Regions from separate parts of the Homo sapiens genome. Here all the other regions are linked to region 1. Evidence: fine-mapped expression QTL. A gene starts in region 1. Each other region holds a variant in brackets. All regions are shown on one strand. Distances are from middle to middle. Region 1 holds the start of STAG2-AS1 (STAG2 antisense RNA 1). Region 2 has its middle 38 kb from the start of STAG2-AS1. Region 3 overlaps STAG2 (STAG2 cohesin complex component).

The links. PIP is the estimated chance that this variant, and not a neighbour inherited with it, causes the effect. A credible set is the group of variants that fine-mapping cannot tell apart.
Region 2: its variant is the best candidate, but not a certain one, in a credible set for the expression of STAG2-AS1 in gastroesophageal junction (GTEx, PIP 0.69).
Region 3: its variant is the best candidate, but not a certain one, in a credible set for the expression of STAG2-AS1 in subcutaneous fat (FUSION, PIP 0.78).

Annotation. Positions count from the first base shown.
Region 1 is chrX:123,958,231-123,964,488 of GRCh38, reverse strand. STAG2-AS1 (STAG2 antisense RNA 1) reads left to right here and starts at 3,148. Exons shown (of 2, transcript NR_130770.1): 1 at 3,148-3,300; 2 at 5,084-5,256. It overlaps STAG2 (STAG2 cohesin complex component), which reads right to left and starts at 2,783. Exons shown (of 35, transcript NM_001042750.2): 1 at 2,633-2,783. RefSeq lists enhancers at 1,276-1,535, 1,626-1,725, 3,154-3,203, 4,184-4,373, 3,902-4,817 and a silencer at 2,694-2,833.
Region 2 is chrX:123,919,846-123,926,103 of GRCh38, reverse strand. No RefSeq gene overlaps it. Among named protein-coding and RNA genes, the nearest start is that of STAG2-AS1, 38 kb to the left of the region's middle. RefSeq lists an enhancer at 1,534-2,035. The variant T/G (reference allele first, on the strand shown) is at 3,554.
Region 3 is chrX:124,006,673-124,012,930 of GRCh38, reverse strand. The region is part of intron 1 of STAG2 (STAG2 cohesin complex component); the gene reads right to left. Among named protein-coding and RNA genes, the nearest start is that of STAG2, 48 kb to the right of the region's middle. The variant TCTACCTACCTAC/C (reference allele first, on the strand shown) is at 3,484.

The DNA.
Region 1 (6,258 bases):
CCTATTAATAGTAAATCCCTTTCATACTGACTCACTGTAACTCCAACTTGATGAAATAGACACTAAGCAGAATTTACAAAAATTGCAAATGGAATTTTCCTGTTTTCAAAGAATTAAAAAGGAAACTAAAAGTAGAGCACATTCAGGCTAAGTTATAAACATTTAAAGTTCAACCAATTTATAAGTATTTATGTTGCCTGTTTTATACTAGTTCCCGTTTAAACGTTTTTTTTTTTTTGAAAGTTTTGCCAAGCATTGTGTAATCACTTACACAAGGCTAAATTTCCTATGCAAGTAATTTTGACATGTAAATATAAACTTAAGTCATTACCCCCAAGACTGTAAGACAATCTGGAAATTCTACTGCAAAAAAAGTTTATCTTAAACTATGGAAATGTTTAACAGCACGCACAAAAGTAGAGAGAATAATAGTAACAATGAGCGCTTCTGTATTCATCCAGCTACAATAATCAACTCAAGGCCACTTCTGCTTCACACCTACCTCCTACCCACTCCCTCCTCTCATTATTATCTTCAAAAAGAATTAAGAGGAAGATACTATGTTCTCTAAGTACACTTCTACCCAAAGATAGCAAAAGTATCAAAAACTAGCATGTTAAGTCAAAATCCAACAATGTAACTATACAGCCGCCTTACGCCTTACACAATTCTTTGGTAGGTGATAAATTTAAGAATTCAGTTAAACACAAAGATATAACCATCTTTAAGAATTTTAATGAAGTCCATAAACCCAAAGGGCATATTTAAAATTATACCTAAAAAGACAAATAGGGAAATGTGATGAAAACGAACTTAAACATCTGCAATTAACTTACTTAACGTGGCACCTTAGTTCAAAATGAAAAAAAAAAATCGACTATTTAACATAATGTGTCATAAAACTGCAATTCAACCACTTGAAAAACTGCTGAACACTTATATACCTTAAACTGGTCCTTCTGATCCCTAATTATAGATTGATATCAATGTAGAAAGAAAACCAGGCATTTTAACGTTAAGTGGTTGAAAATGTTGAAAATTAACCCCACTGTTCATCGGAAAGTATATGAGAGCAAGCCTAAACTACCTGAATTATATGTCATTAAACAAATGCATCCACTTCCCAGAGCCTTTTTTTTAACAAAATAAGTTCAGATATACCCTTAAACGCAACGCGCTAGGCTACAGACAGAATTAGGAGACCGCCTCCTGCTTTTGCTCCTAACCAATACGCAGAGAGAGAAGGTTGGCAGAAAAGTGCTGCGAGGACAGTAACAAACACCAGCAGCTCCCGAGCAGGCCCTGCTAGAGCCAGGAATGACGCACTTCGGTAACCCGACTCTTTCTCCCCTCCACCCCCGCCCCCAGCAGCGGTGCTGACACCGCCAACAGCCCGGAGTAGGAAAAAAGACAACAGAAAAAAAGGCAGAGGTTGGACCGCACTAGGTTTCATCAAGAAACCTCGATGATTCCTCTTTCGACACTAACCACTAGGACTAAACAGGAAAAGAAGCTTCGTGCTTAAGCAAGTCCCATCATGGTGGTTTAAGAGTCACTAAATTAAGCTGATAATGAGTCCAATCCACAGAGACAAATACAGGGTGTGGCTGCTGCGAAATACGGCGGTCCGTGGGAGAAAAGGGGTATGGAATTTACACTCCAGTGTGAAGGGAAGATGGGGCTTTATGGTGGGAGAAGGGGGTGGCCCGCGCATTTTAAGGAACCATTGCAAACCAACACAAGCGCCTCGTTTACTTTAAATCTAACCTTACAGATCAAAAGTTTCCAATAGATATATCATGTAAACTGTAAATTACCATTTAATCCAACACCATGGCCCTCAATTTAAAAACTACATCCAAGAGAAAGAAGGAGGGAGAGGGAAGAGGGGTGGTAGGCAACAACATAAAAAACATTCTAGGCCACGGAAGAGAAAGTCTCACAAACCGGATGAAACTACTAATACAATATTAAAAATTAAAGCCGAGCACTGAAGCACGAAAATCACACGATAACCCATTACAGTTAAGGATTAAAAATAAAATGACATATGCACCAAGGGGGAGCGGAAACTAAATGTCGAAAGTACAGCGGTTTATAAAAAACTAAAGGCAAAACAAGACATTCTCGCGACGGGGGGAAAAAAAGGCCGAAATCAACAATACGTTCACAATTCTAGGCCAAAAGAAAATGGGAACGGGGCTCAAAGTTTTGCGGAACTACTTGATGCTGTTTCCCACACCTTCTCTCTCCCACGGCCCATCCGACCCTTTTCGTCCCAAAATCGCCGTCCGCAGATCTCCGGATCCAGGGGAGAAGAAAAAAGAAAGTCGACCCCGAGCAAGAATAAAAGTGTGGAGTGAAAACGCACAGGCTGCCTACCTGGGGCAAGGATCAGCTCAGTTCGTGCCTTGAGAAAGACAGTGCGGGTGGGGGTGGGAATGAAAAGCAGCACTAAAACTAAAACAAAAGTGGCGCCAAAACCCCCCAACAAACAGCCTTCCACTCCCGCCCTTCCCCCCTCCGCCCATGCCAGGCAGGCAGGGCCCCCTTCGGGGCAAGGTCTGCGCGCGGGGGCCAACACCGCCAGACCCCAGCCAATTTAGAAAATTGTTGCCCGAAGAAAACTGACCGAAGTCGGGCCTCGGAAGGGATGGAGAGATCGATGCCAATCGCCTTCCCCAGCAGTTCCCCCACCACGCGCTGGAGATGATGGGGCGGGGGAGAAGCAGAGGGGCCCGTCACATGAATGTTGTTCCCTCTCTAGGAAGGGAGGAAGAGAGGGAGGGAGGGGGGAGGGAGGGAAGGGAGGAGGGGAAGGGAGAAGGGAGGGGGCACGAGGGAGGGGTGTGATCAGAGTAGATTTTCCCTCGCCTCCCTCGGTCCGAGGCCCAAATATACACAACTGAGCCTCCTTTCTCCCCTCCCCCCTAGGTTCCCAGCACCACCATTTTGCTCTCTGCCTTCCCCTCACCGCGACACCGCGCTCTCCCCCACCCCAACCACAGCCTCCCGGCTTTCCTCCCCCGACTACGGCTCGCACCCCACCCCACCTCCAGTTCGGGCTCTCCTAGGCTTAGGAGCCTGCCGGAGAAAAGGAACCTAAATCTACTGCTACACAGAGAAGCGGAGCCTCCATCTTGCGCTGCTCCGCGTTCTCCATTTTGGGCCACCCATGGGGGGGGGGGGTCTCCGTAGAGGCCCCGAGGGAGAGTTGGGCGAGGGAAGGAAGAGAAAATCTTCAGCGAGGGTAGTCGAAAAGAAGAGCCCTGCGGTAGAAAGCCACTCTAGGAGTAGGAGGTAGGGAGGAAGGGGGGCTGGAAGTTCCTTGGAAGTGTTGGGGTAGCGACTTGGGGGGAGAAGGGAGAAAGGAGGGCGGGGGGCGCCGCGGGGGCGAGAAAGATCCTCCCGCCTGGACTCTGCCCCCCGTTCCATGGCTGCCCCCCATGGGGGCGAAGAAAGCAGAGGGGAAATTCAATGGCAACAGAGTGCCCAACCTCTTTCCCTCCCAACTCCTCTCTCTCGCCCTGTTTCAATCATACACACCTCACGGTGGGCCAAGCGCCCTCCGGGTGCCCCTCCAAACTTCTAGAAGCTTCGCCTCCGCCATTTTATAACTTACCTCCCCCCTCAGCGTACACAGAGGCAGCAACGAGACTGTTCGCCTCCCCCACTCCTCCTTCTTTCTCAGGCCGGGGGCTTCTTCACCCCTGGGCTGGTACAAGATATTTTTCCCCTTCCTCTTCTTTACACCCTCGAATTCTACTCAGGGACGGAAGCTCCCGCGGTTCTAGAGCGGTGGGGGGTTTTGAAAGTGGCGGTCGGATCCGGCGGGGTTTTTTTTCTTTTTTTTTTTTTTTTTTTTTTTTTTTTTTTTTTTTTTTTTGGTGGCGCTTCGGGATTGTTTGGGGTGTTCGCTCTTCGGCGACTTGGAGGCGAATGGAACGCGCAGGCGCCATCTGTCGGCCACGAACCCGCGCCCGGCTCCCGTTGGGAGGGAGCGGCATCTAGCGGCAGAGAGTTGCCACTGCAACGCCTGGCTCCCAGCCCTCCCACCCAGCGTCCTCCTCCCAGTCACCGACCAATCGTGGCCGACTGACTCCCGGGTTCAGCGTCTCCGACGCCGCCCGCAAACCAGGCGCCCGCAGGGGCGCGCCGCCGAGTGGGGTAAACAAGGTGCCGTGCCCGCGCCTGACTTACTCATTCGTTTGGCCGCGCTTCCGCCGCGGACCCGATCGAGCCGCGGTTCTTCTGTCTTTAGTGGGGTGTCGAGGGGAGGGCGGTAGGAATGTCCGGCGGAGCCCTGGGCCGTGGGAATCCAGAGGCTGGCTGGGTTCGCTCCGGGACTCGTTCCCCGGGCCCCTCCGCCCCTCGCGAGGCGCTAAGGTGGCAGCCCAGTCGGGCATCACCCTTCGAAGTCCCCTCTTCTGACACACCCCTGTGAGGGGCCTGTGGCCCTAGTTCCCGTACCTTCGATGCCCCCTTGTCCCTACCCCTTCCCACCAAAAGAACCCAAGTCGCTTAACTCTGGCACCTGATCCTAAATGGTTTAATGGAGCTACTTGGGCTAGATCGGGGGCGGAATACGGGTTGGTTTTGTTTTGCTTTTTGCTTCGGGTGTGGAGAGAGAGCGAGCTGATTCTCTACCAGTAAGACCTAGCCCTGGAAAAGAAAGAAAAATTGTTTTGCTTTACAGCCCACTGGTCCCGTCTCCGAGAAAACGTGGTCTGTATCTCCAGGTTCTAGGAGTCCTAAAGAACTGGACTACTAGGCTAGGCCGGGCGCTCGACCAATTTGTTCGCCACTCTCGGGGCGGGGGAAGAGATAGGACCGAGCGAAGTGGAGGGAAATCGAAATTTGGGCAAAAGGAGTGGAGGGGGACCTACCCCGCCTCCCCCGCGCATCCACTGCCTTCCTGGGCGGGTGCAACCACGCGAAATGGTTGGGAATTTAGGTTACTTCGCATCCTGCCTTCCCATCCCTCCCCCAAGATGTTTGAAGTGCGAAAAGACCCTTTCTGCTCCTCCGACCCCTGTTAACTAAAATCTTTGTCACCCTTTTTTTTTGTTTGTTTCGAATCCAGTGTATTGGACCTTTGACCGCCAAGAGCTCTTTACTCGGGGGAGAAAAACTCGAGGAGGGCCTATCCCCTCCAAAGCGCCGCTTTTTCCTTGGACAGGAAGAAGTGACCTATTGCAGTGTCTCCATTGCTGTTATAGAAGTTCGTAGATTCATAAAATAGTGTTTGCTTAAGAAGTCTTCGTTTCTGTTCCATTTTTGAAATTTTGGTTAAAATATTTCTTAAATATTAAATTACATTTCAATTAGAAGAAAAGAAATAAAACGTATTAATAACAAAACAAATTTTCCAACTGAGAAATAGGGTGAGCCCCGTGTAAATCATGAAGCTTTCACCCCGATATCACTTCTGAAACATTCCTAATGTAATATAACGATTATTTTCAGTCCTTAAATTATATTCCTTCCATATCTCTTGTTAGTTTCTCTCCCATCCTCTGTGCTTATTGTTTTTTCTGCAACTTTACAAAAAGAGTTATAGTATATTTAATCAACTGGACAATAAAAGTTAAACAGAAACATCTGAATATCAATAACAAGAAGTAAAATCTGAGACATTTTTACTTACCTCTAAAGCTCTGGAGAGTGGAATACTATTCAAAATAAATTTCCATTTCTTTTATAGACCATCTTTGGTAGAATGCTATACAGTTTTTAATAGATTCAAGTTACAGAATGATGCAGCTAGAACATTAAATAGAGAGTAGTGGAAAATTTACAGAGTTATATAAGTTAATGCAAAATTCCACTTGAAGTAATAGAAAAATTGGGCCGTGTACCAAGTCATTTTTACATTAATTTAGTTCAATTGTGCCAATTTAATCTCAATTGATATTAAATGATTTCCTGTCTTAGTATTAGCTGAAAACTACTGATTTTCTGCTCCAAACATCACATTTATGGTACATGGTACAAATAGTTTTTTATCTATTTTATAAATTTGTATTCTCAGTTAATTATCTATGTAGCAACTGAGATTTTAAACAATTTTATGCTTAGAACAAAACTGAAAAGTTCTTCTGTTTAGCAAATTAGCTCTGATTTTGTGAAAAATACCACTGAAGATTAATAACAAACTGGTATAACATCAGAAATAAATGTTGTAGCAAATTTTTACTAATATTTAAGAATATTTTACAGTAACCATTTTTTTTGTTAGAGCTCTTTCAAAAAAATACT
Region 2 (6,258 bases), 38 kb after region 1:
TTGCAGTGAGCCAAGATCACGCCATAGCACTCCAACCTGGGCAACAAGAGTGAAACTCTGCCTCAAAAATCATAATAATAATAATAATAATAATACAAAAATTAGCTGGGTATGGTGGCACACACCTGTAATCTTAACTACTTGGGAGACTGAGGCATAAGAATTGCTTCAACCCAGGAGGTAGATGTTGCAATGAGCTGAGATCATGCCACTGCACTCCAGCCTGGGTGACAGAGTGAGACTCTGTCTCTAATAATAATAATAATAATAATAATAATAATAATAATAATACTTTCTTCATTTCCTTCCACCCAATCTTTCCTCTGGCTCATTAGCCTTGAACTCCTTGACTCAATCAATCCTCCCACCTCACCCTCCCAAGTAGCTGGGACTACAGGTGGGCAGCACTCCACCCAGCTTATATACCATTTTATCAACTGTGTAGATTCATGTACCCACCACCACAGTCAGGATACGGAACAATTACAGCATCACAGATTCTTCCTGTTGCCCTTTTATAACCACACCCATCTACCGCCACCCTCCCTTCCCCAATCCATGGCAACCACTTACTCTGGCCCTCCACTTCTTAAATTTTGTTATTTCAAAAAATGCTATATAAATAGGCACTTTTCAAAAGTTTTCTGCACTCAGAGTGAGAAACATATGCAGTGCTACAGTATTTCAAGAAGGGTGGAACCCTCTTGTGTTTTCTTACTCCATTTAAAGGAAAATATTTCCTTCCAGCAGAGTAAAATTGACTCACTTTCTGGGTACTTTAGTAAATTTCTACTTTAGTAATGGCAGCTGAATCCCCTTAGCAATGGTCACTGCTTCAAGTAGTAGTTTCTATGAAGGAAAACAGCCTCCCCACACCCTATATAGTTCAGACAGAACTTTGGGGCTGGAGGAAAGAAAAGTTTTTGCTTGAAATTCATGTATCAAAATCATCACACATTGATAAAGGACAGAATTCAAACCTAACATACGAAAATGGGGCTGGGCGTGGTGGCTCATGCCTGTAGTCCCAGTACTTTGAGAGGCTGAGGCAGGAAGATCCAATTAAGTCCAGGAGTTCAAGACCAGCCTGGACAACATAGGGAGACCCCATCTCTACAAAAAAATTTTTTAAAATTAGCTGAGTGTGGTGGCACAGCCTGTGGTCCTAGCTACTCGGGAGGGTGAGGTGGGAGGATGACTTGAGCCCAGGAGGTTGAGGCTGCTGTGAGCTATGATCGTGCCACTGTACTCCAGCCTGGGTGACAGAAGAAGACCCTGTCCCTCCTGCCCCCCCCAAAAAAAAAGATAAAAAGAAAAATATTTGATTTATACTCATAGTCTCATATTCCATTTCATATTCCATCTTGGAACCAAATATTTAGATTCTTTGGGGCTATCAGAGAAAATGTGCTTTCCTTTGAACATAAAGTTGCCACTAAGTAGGATCCAAGTTTATCCAAGTTCATTAGAAGATATAAGCTTGACACTGCTTTCCTGTAATGGAGAGGGATACTACACTCTCTCCTTTCCTTCTCTCATATGGCAGAATGGCAAAAGGAGTGTGTGGGAAGGTTGCCCAGGTTATGGGTCAGTAGTTCTTTTTTCATGTGTTCTCAACTGGCTTTGTTGTTCTAGGTTTCCCCTTACTACCCAGAGTGACTGGGATGTTGTCACTACATCTTGCTGGTTTCTCCCCTCTTGTTTTCTGCTTGGCCAATCCCAGCCCTTCTCCTTCCCGACTTAAATATTCAACATTCTGATTTCAACATCTTTTTCCTTCTCCTGCTGTGGAGACATCTAAAGAATTTCACCTGCTGTGTGTTTCCAACAGGCCAATTAAAATATGGAGCAGGTGGAGGGAAAGAAGAGGAATAAGAACAGCAAACAAGAAATTACCAAGTATTCAGCAAAGCAAAGAGGGGCCTCCTATTAGGTTTCAGTGAAGCCACTGAGCTGATCTTTTACAATCTTCACGGACTGTTGTCAGAGAGGAGATGAGTGAGCCAACTGAAGTGGAAAAATTGAAAAATGAAGGTAGAAAATGATCTGGAAAACTATACTCCCCAAGAAGAAAGACTTGGGCCGGGTGTGGTGGCTGACGCCTGTAATCCCAGCACTTTGGGAGGCCAAGGCGGGTGGATCACCCGAGGTCAGGAGTTCAAGACCAGCCTGGCCAACATGACGAGACCGTGTCTCTACTAAAAATACAAAAATTAGCTGGGCATGGTGGCAGGCGCTTGTAATCCCAGCTACTCGGGAGGCTGAGGCAGGAGAATGGTGTGAACCCGGGAGGCGGAGCTTGCAGTGAGCCGAGATCGCGCCACTGCACTCCAGCCTGGGCGACAGAGCTAGACTCCGTCTCAAAAAAAAAAAAACAAAAAAACAGAAGAAAGACTTTAAGTATCCTAAAGTCCAAAGGATTAATGGTCCTTACTACTACTGTGGGTTGCATTCTATTTTAAAGACAACTGGTATCAGTGGATAAATAATGTAGTAGTAACTTGAGAACATGGAAAACCTACCTGAGTTGTGTCATTTCAAATACCTATTAAAGAGTTGAGTAGAGGATGCAAGTATGAGAGACTCGCTGCAGTATGTAATTATGCACTTTGAAAGCTTGGTTCATCCATGGCTCTCAAAGCACATTACCAACTTTAATTGTTTTTTGTAACACCTCTGTAAGACCATTATTCCCTACAGACAGATGAAGAAATGGAGACAGAAAGGTTACCAGGCGCCTTCAGTCACCATGAATCATCTGTGGAGTTGCTCCTATTCCAGATTGATTTGTCATTTGAGTTAATTGACCATTTCCAAATGAAGACAGACTGCTTGAGCAGTGCTTTGAGTAAATTTTGGCTTCTAATTTTTGTTTGTTTGTTTGGAAGCAAGGGACGCTAGATTCATTTTAAGCTGTAATCTGTTTGAAGAGTTACTATTCAATAAAATGTACATGGAAACATATTAAAATATGCAAGACATATGCCAGCACACACATATAAGTTTATAACATAATAGACCAAGTGGGTCCTTTTGTCCTCCATCATTCACCTTGCACAGAAAACAAAACAAAACAAAATGACAAATGTATCATATACGATCATACAGCTTTAGGATCTGGAACAACCTCAGATCTTTTTTTTTTTTTTTTTTTTTTGTGAGACAGAGTCTCACTCTGTCACCCAGGCTGGAGTGCACTGGTTGCCCACTGCAACCTCCACCTCCTGGGCTCAAGCAGTTCTCCTGTCTCAGCCTCCCTAGTAGCTGGGAACACAGGTGCGCACCACCATGCCCAGCTAATTTTTGTATTTTTAGTAGAGATGGGGTTTCACCATACTGGTCAGGCTGGTCTTAAACTCCAGACCTCAGGTGATCCACCCACCTCGGCCTCCCAAAGTGCTGGGATTATAGACGTGAGCCACTGCACCTGGTCAATCTCAGATCTTTTAGCTTTTGTGACACTCCTTTCAGAAAACCTACTCCAATTATTGGGCCACACCTCATTTGTCCTTCTGTGTTCCTGTTGTAATGATAGTCTATTACACACAATCTA[T/G]CGCTGTATCACACTGTACTTATACTCTTTTGTTCTTTTGATTTTTTTGGGTTAAACAACACAACAGTTATCAATGCCCCTGTATTGTATTTGGAATCAGGGAATAGCTTGTGAATGATGTATGTAAGTCTCTTTCTGCCAACGAGACTATAAACCCCAGGAGGGCTGAGTTTGAGTCTTGTTTTCTTATATCCTTCTTCCCAGAATTTCTGGGTACACATCAAACACTTAACACACAGTGTTAGTTTGATTTAATAGGATTGAGAGACGGTGGTGAGGGTAACAGTGAAGTGAAATGGGTTCTATTAAACTCATTAATCAAGGTGGCTGAATTTAAATATATATTTCAGGTGGCCGGGCGCGGTGGCTCACGCCTGTAATCCCAGCACTTTGGGAGGCCGAGGCAGGCGGATCACGAGGTCAGGAGAACAAGACCATCCTGGCTAACACGGTGAAACCTCGTCTCTACTAAAAATACAAAAAAAATCAGCCGAACATGGTGGCGGGTGCCTGTAGTCCCGGCTACTTGGGAGGCTGGGGCAGGAGAATGGCTTGAACCCGGGAGGCAGAGTTTGCAGTGACCCAAGATCATGCCACTGCACTCCAGCCTGGGCGACAGAGTGAGACTCCATCTCAAAAAAGTAAAATAAAATAAAATAAAATAAAATAAAATAAAATAAAATAAAATAAAATAAATATATATTTCAGGCCGGGCATGGTGGCTCATGCCTGTAATCCCAGCACTTTGGGAGGCCAAGGCAGGTGGATCACAAGGTCAGGAGTTGGAGACTGGCCTGACCAACATGGAGAAACCCTGTCTTTACTAAAAATACAAAAGTTTGCTGGGCGTGGTAGCACACGCCTGTAATCCCAGCTACCGGAGAGGCTGAGGCAGGAGAATCGCTTGAATCCGGGAGGCGGAGGTTGCAGCGAGCCGAGATCGCCCACTGCACTCCAGCCTGGGCGACAGAGTAAAACTCCATCTCAAAAAATAAAAAAAAGGGCCAGGCGCGGTGGCTTACGCCTGTAATCTCAGCACTTTGGGAGACCAAGGCGGGCGGATCACGAGGTCAAGAGATCGAGACCATCCTGGCCAACATGGTGAAACCCCGTCTCTACTAAAAATACAAAAATTAGCTGGGCATGGTGGTGCTCGCCTGTAGTTCCAGCTACTCGGGAGGCTGAGGCAGGAGAATCACTTGAACCCGGGCGGCAGAGGTTGCAGTGAGCAGAGATCAGCCACTGCACTCTAGCCTGGGGACAGAGTGAGACTCTGTCTCAAAAAAAAAGAAAAAGAAATACAAAAATTAGGCAGGCATGCTGGCACACCTGTAGTCCCAGCTACTCAGGAGGCTGAAGTGGGAGTTTCCCTTGAGCCTGGGAGACAGAGGTTGCAGTGAGCTGGAATTGTACCACTGCACTCTAGCCTGGGCAACAGAGCAAGACTCTGTCTCAAAAAAAAAAAAGAAAAAAAGAAAGGAGGCCGGACGCAGTGGCTCACGCCTGTAATCCTAGCACTTTGGGAGGCTGAGGCGGGTGGATAACCTGACGTCAGGAGTTCGAGACCAGCCTGACCAACATGGAGAAACCCCGTTTCTACTAAAAATACAAAAATTAGCCGGCGAGGCTGAGGCAGGAGTATCACTTGAACCCAGGAGACAGAGGTTGCGGTGAGCCAAGAACACGCCATTGCACTCCAGCCTGGGCAACAAGAGCAAAACTCTGTCTCAAAGAAAAAAGAAAAGAAAAGAAAAGAAAAATTTGTAAAAACATCAGTATTGATCCAAATTGTATTGTACTTGTCAATGCACAGTTTTTGGATGGGGAGGTCTTCCCACTCCATTTATTTATTCATTTGTTCATTCATTCCTTCACTCATATATTTAGGTACTGAGCAAAAATTAACTCAGTGCCTACTAATGGACTAGATAGTGTGCTAGTCATGATAACATAGGGACTAGGGAGACATGGTTCCTGACTTCCAAGGTTTGCCTTGGCAGTGTAGTGAAAAGTTATCTTTCCCATTTCCAAATTCCTGAGATCAGAAATGTAGTTAAACTATTTTTTTTTTAAGAATTACTTTAATTTTTCAATTCAAGTTGAATAGATTTGGTTTTGTGGTTTGGTATCATATGGCCAGCCAGGTCTTGCCATCCAAAAAGGAGCTTAGATTTAGACGTATATACATCAGACAGTGAGGCAGCCAATTTAGCTAAATGATGCCAAAAATTAGCTAGAAACAGCTTTGTTGCCTATAAGAACAGCTTGACTGGTGATTCACCATATGATTTAGGTGAGTCATATAACCTCTATGTCTGGGGTTTCTCAGCTGTAAATTACAGAGATGCTAGGAATATAATGAATAAGAAACACAATGGCATAGTGCAAGAGTACCAGACCAGAAGTCAGAGTTATTTTTATGGCTTTGCTTCTACCTATCTGTATGACCCTGGGCAAGTCACCTAACCTTTCAGTGGCCATTTCATTAACTGCAGAATTATAATAAACTGCTCACTTTAGAGAGATGTTACAAAACAAAGCAGGTAAAGTGCTTTGAAAATTATAGTTTCAGGTTGGGAGCGGTGGCTCACGCCTGTAATCCCAGCACTTTGGGAGGCTGAGGCGGGCAGATCACAAGGTCAGGAGCTCGAGACCATCCTGGCTAACACGGTGAAACCCCGTCTCTACTACAAAATACAAAAAAT
Region 3 (6,258 bases), 48 kb before region 1:
AGATTACATCACAAGTTTTCACATTTATTTACTCAAGGTAGTAAAAAGTATCTCAATGAATTACTGAATTTTTATTAATAATTTGCATGATAATGAAGATAGAACTGTAGCCAAAAAACAATTCAGTAGATTAAAAACAATAAAACCAATGTGAAAAATAAACCACTTTATAGAGAATGAAAAATTTTAACCCAAAATTTAAAAATGTGGTGACTATTAATATGTAATGCCTCTTTTTTCATTTTAGCATGACTATATAAGAACACATATATGTCACATGTCCAATTTTTTTGTTCCTTTCACTTCTGATTAGCTGACCTTATTAAAATATTTAGCATTACCAGCCACTTGATATTACCCACTAACCTTTTAGCTAACAACCACAGTACACAATTCATAGGCTTGAATTATATGCATATTCAAGTTCAGAAATCAAATATGCTTTCATAATTCAGTTTGTCAACACACTATAGTACTTCCCAATTCGTATTTCAGATCTAAGAGTTTGATTCTTCACTTGGTAATTCCACACAGTGGTAACAACAGGAGACACATATGTGGTACTCTAAAATTCTTTTAATTCTCTCTAATCTTAAACATTCCTAGACAAAGAGTAAGGCATGCAAATTACATTTTAAAAATTAAATTCAAGCCAGAAAAAGACACTATAAGAAAACTACAGACCAATATCCCTGATGAATATTGATGCGAAAATTCCTAACAAAATACTAGCAAACCAGAATTCATCATTTAAAACATTTAAAATATTATACACCATGACCAAGTGAGATTTATTGCTGAAATGCAAGACTGTTTCAACATACAAAAATCAATCAATGTAACACAGGACATCAACAGAATGAAGGACAAAAACCACATGATCATCTCAGTTGATGCAGGAAAAGCATTTGACAAGATTCAACACCCTTTCACTATAAAAAACACTCAAGTTAAAACTAGAAAAAAATCACCTGCTATGGTTTGAATATTTGTCCCCTCAAAAACTCGTGGAAATTTAATCCCCAATGTGGCAGTACTGAGAAGTGGGGTCTTTAATAGGAGATTGGGTAAGGAGGGCTCTGCCATCATGAATAGGTTAATCCATTCATGGATTACTGGATTAATGATTTAATAGTTATGAGAGTGGGACAGGTGGCTTTAGAAGAGAAAGAGACCTGAGCAAGCACCCTCAGTCCCATTGCCATGTGATGCCTTGCAACACCTAGGAACTGTGCAGAGTTCCCACTAGCAAGAAGACTCTCATCAGATGTGGACCCTCAAAACTTGGACTTCTCAGCCTCCTTAACTGTAAGAAATAAATTCTTTTTCTTTATAAAGTACCTAATTTCAGATATTCTGTTGTAAGGAACAGAAAATGGACTAAGACGCTATCTCTACATAGTAAAAGTCAAAAACTCATAGCTAATATTATACTCAAGGGTAAAAGACTGAAAGTTTTTACTCTAACATACAGAACAAGGCAAGGATGCCCACTCCCACTACGTGTCTATTCAACATAGTATTGGAAGGCCTAGCCAAAGCAATTAGGCAGGAAAAGTAACAAATAAAAGGCATCCAAGTTAGAAAGAAAGAAAGAAGTAAAATTATCTCTGTTCCCAGATGACACAATCTTATATGTAGAAAATCCCAAAGTTTACACACACATAAAAACTCTTAGAACTAATAACCACAAATTCAATAAAGTCGCAGGATATTAAATCAACACACAAAATTCTTGTATATACTAACAATCCAAAAAGGAAATTAAGAAAACAATTCCATTTACAACAGCATCAAAAACTGTAAAATACTAAACCTAACCAAGCACGTAGAAGACTTGTACACTGAAAACTACAAAATACTGCTGAAATGAAAGATGACACAAATAGAAAGGCATCCTGTGTTCATGAATTCGAAGACTTAATATTATCATGAAGTCCATACTACCCAAAGAAATCTACAGATTCAACACAATCCCTATCAAAATTCCAATAGCACTTTTTGCAAAAATGAAAAAAATTAAGCTGAAAATTCATATAGAATCTCAAGGGACCCCAAAAAGCCCAAACAATTTTAGGAAGAAAAGAACAAAGTTGGAGGACTCACACTTCCTAATTTCAAAGCATTTTAGAGAAAGTCCTCAATATCACCAACAGGTTCTTGGAAACTCCAATGTTAAGCAAAATGACGTATAATGAATGAAACCAATTTTTTTCCTCATCAACATTATAACAAAACAACACTGAACAAATTGATATTGTTCAAAGATCTGCTGTACACCGCTTTGCTTAAAGCCCAAGTTTCCAAGAACCTAAGAACGGCACTAAGTGAGAACTTACTGTACAAAGCTACAGTAATCAAAACTGTGAGGTACTGGCATAAAGACAAATAGACCAGTGGAATAGAACAGATATGGATAAACAAAATGTAGTAGATACATAAAATGAGTTACACACCTTTTAAAAGGAAGGAACATCTGTACTACATTACAACACGGATGGACCCTAAGGGCATTATGCTAACTGAAATAAGCTAGTCACAAAAAAGACAAATACCATATGATTCAACTTATGAGGTATCTGAAGTAGTCAAATTCATAGAAACAGAAAGTAGAATGGTTACCAGGGACTAGGGGAAGAGAAAAACGGGAGTTGTTGTTTAATAGGTATAGAGTTTCTGGCTTTCAAGATGAAAAATTTCTGTAGATCTGTTTCACAGCAGTTGGATATATTTAACGTTACTCAATTATACACTTAAAAAATGGTTAAATGGTAAATGTTGTTGTTTACCACAATAAAAAATTAAATTTGAAACCTCTTTTATCAAGCAAGCTTCTCTCATATGGTATAAACTCACAGGATTTTACTTAAATCATCGATCATTTAAGAACACCTTTCTACTAAACAAGCATACCACATACCATATAACTACTGATCTATTGAGATGTCATTTTGTAAATTAAGACACTAATCATTGATATCTACACTCAGAATATTTTGAGACTTTTTGTCTCCCGTTTAATAAGGTAAAATGCACCAAAGCTTATGTTAAATTTACAGCAAAATATCAAAAGAAATAATCTAACTTTTCCAAAAAAACATGGAAACACTTGAACAACCAGAGCTAACCTTACATTTAAGTTGCTCACCATAGAGTATGAAAACTGTCATTGAAACCTATTTAACAAATGTTAAACATTTATTTCCCTTGTTCAAAATATGACAGTACAAGTCAAGTCCCATAGTTACCCACAAGAGCACACAACTTAAAGCCAGGGTAAAAAGCAGCAACAATCTTCCAGCAGCAACGCAAACTAACTGCATCCAACGGTTAGCATACTAAATGGCCTCATGTGATGATACTAAGATTTAGGAATTACCCTAAAATGCAACACTTGATTCCATTAAACTCGAGAGGAAGCATACAGCATGAAAAAGATCCAGTAAGAAGAGATATCTATCTATCTATCTATCTATCTATCTA[TCTACCTACCTAC/C]CTACCTACCTACCTACCTACCTACCTACCTACCTACCTACCTGGTTAGATTACTGGTACCAGATATCATTAGGGGACTCTCACATTTTGCCCTGTAACCAAGCAAATTTCATATACTTTAGCATGCCATCCAAACAGACCAACTCAATCTGAGCTCTAAGATGACTGAAGTTTTTAAACCTTCCCTAGAACTATGACCAAAAGACTGCCTTATTTCTAAACAACAACAAATACATTAAAGCATCCTGCAAAATCAATATCCCCAAAAGAACTATCGAGATGCTAAGAAAGGAGGCGAAATAATGACTCAACATATATTTAATATTAAGAGCAATATATTATTAAAAACAAATATATATTAGAGCTAACGTTTTTGTTTTGGATAGACTTGAAAGTACACTCTACTACAGAGAACTTGAAACTATCTTAGATTCATAGTTATTGCAACTTTGCTGTTATGACACAGTTTGTTGTAACAATGGTTTATTTGTTAAGTCATTAGTCAGGAAAGAAACTTCTCAATTAGAAAACTCTTTCAAAAAAAAATGTGTTATAATTATCCTCCTGGCAAAAAGTTATCTGCCAAATAACGTAGCAACACTGAGAACAACATGATTGAGAAGATTATTCATATGCAAGGATCTCCATCTTATTCTATGATTATTATTTTGGCAAAAATACTCAAAATGATCTTTTCATCATGAAACACAATCTCCCTCTCCCTCTGTCTCCCTCCACCCACCATAAATGACTGTGCTTAGCTATCCTGATTAATAAATTAATTGCAACTAGCAGCTGGGCATGGTGGCTCATGCCCCTAATCCAGCACTTTAGGAGACTGAGGCAGGAGGATTACTTGAGCCCAAGCGTTTGAAACTAGCCTGGGCAACACAGCGAGACTGTCTCTAAAAAATTAATAATAGGGCTGGGCACGGTGGCTCACGCCTGTAATCCCAGCACTTTGGGAGGCTGAGGCAGGCGGATCACCTGAGGTCGGGAGTTTGAGACCAGCCTGACCAACATGGTGAAACCCTGTCTCTACTAAAATACAAAAATTAGCCAGGCGTGGTGGCGCATGCCTGTAATCCCAGCAACTCAGGAGGCTGAGGCAGGAGAATCGCTTGAACCTGGGAAGCGGAGGTTGCAGTGAGCCGAGATCGCACCATTGCACTCTAGCCTGGGCAACAAGAGTGAAACTCCATCTCAAAAAAAAAAAAAAAGAAAGAAAATTAATAATAATAATAAATTGCAACTAGGAAAGGGAAAAACTTTTCTCCTCCAACTTCTACATATAATCTATTCTGAAGATGTTTGCCAAATATGCCATTATCATGTCATTTTACTTGAATGTTTTACTTCATTATGTCCCCTTTCACAGGTTAGTCCTATGTCACCTACTTTGGCTAACCATAATTTACAAAGTATTCAACTGCATTTCACCTGTCTGTTTTTCTGCCCAAAGTCATAAAGCAACAAGCAGTTTTTCCAGTGTTACATACTTGAACTTAGTTACTAGTGAACCTACTATCTCATGTTGATCATAACTCATAGATCACAAAATAATGTGGAAGTCAGTGTAGCAGATTCAACTCTCACAACATAAAAAACAGCATTAACACAACTCTGAAAGTCTTCTGTTAGGTCTGCTACTTAATATTTAAGTTTACATCAAATTATGTAATATAATGTAAAATGTGATGCCTTTCACAAAGTAAGAACATGTATATGAATGGATGTATTTGTTTGCACAAAAAAATACTGAGAGGATTAACAAGAAACACTTTTTCCAAGTTGTAAGGAGGAAGGGATGATAAAAGAAATATACGAGACAGGAATCTGTGGAAGACTTCTATATATACCTTTGCATATAATTTTAACTTTTGAATAAGGAAAATGTCATACTCATTCAAATGAAACTGAATTTTGTTAGGTTATGTCACTGTCATAGAAACAGAAATTTCTGAAATTAAAGACAAATTGGAAAAAAAAACCTAATCATGTACATCAAATCAATAACACAGACATACAGAGAAAGTATTCATATAAAGTGAGGTCAGAACACAACACTTTGCTTATCCTTAGTGGGAAGAATTTTAAGGACAAAAAGAAGAAAATTTAAAGCAGGATGGGATGGCTCACACTTGTAATCCCAGCACTTTGGGAGGCCAAGGTGGGGGGATCGCTTGAGGCCAGGGGTTTGAGACCAGCCTGGTCAACACAGCGAGACCTGTTCTCTACAAAAAAGGAGAGGGAGGGAGAGGGAGGAAAGCGGGGAAGGGAGAGGGGGAAAGGGTGGAGGGGGAGGGAAGAAAGAGAGAGAGAGAGAGAGATCGCTTGAGCCCAGGAGTACGAGGCTGCAGTGAGCTGTGATTAGGTCACTGCACTGCAGCCTAGGTGACAGAGCAAGACTATGTCTCTATTTTTAAAAAAAAGAAGGAAAGAAAATTAAACTTCATACAATACTTCTGTTGTCTGCTACACTAATTCTGTTTTTCTGAAGTTATTTTCTTTATACTATAGGAGAAGGCAAGCAATCTTGTTAATGACCCTAAGAATCAAGATATTAAGTATAAAAGAGATAATTAGCAAACAAACTTTTAAAACACATGTTAAACTGAATAGAAGAAAACACAAATTAAAACCACAACATGATATCACTACATCTGTAAGAATTGCCAAAATAAAAAAATAGTGACAGCCCGGGCACGGTGGCTCACGCCTGTAATCCCAACACTTTGGGAGGCCGAGGTGGGCGGATCACAA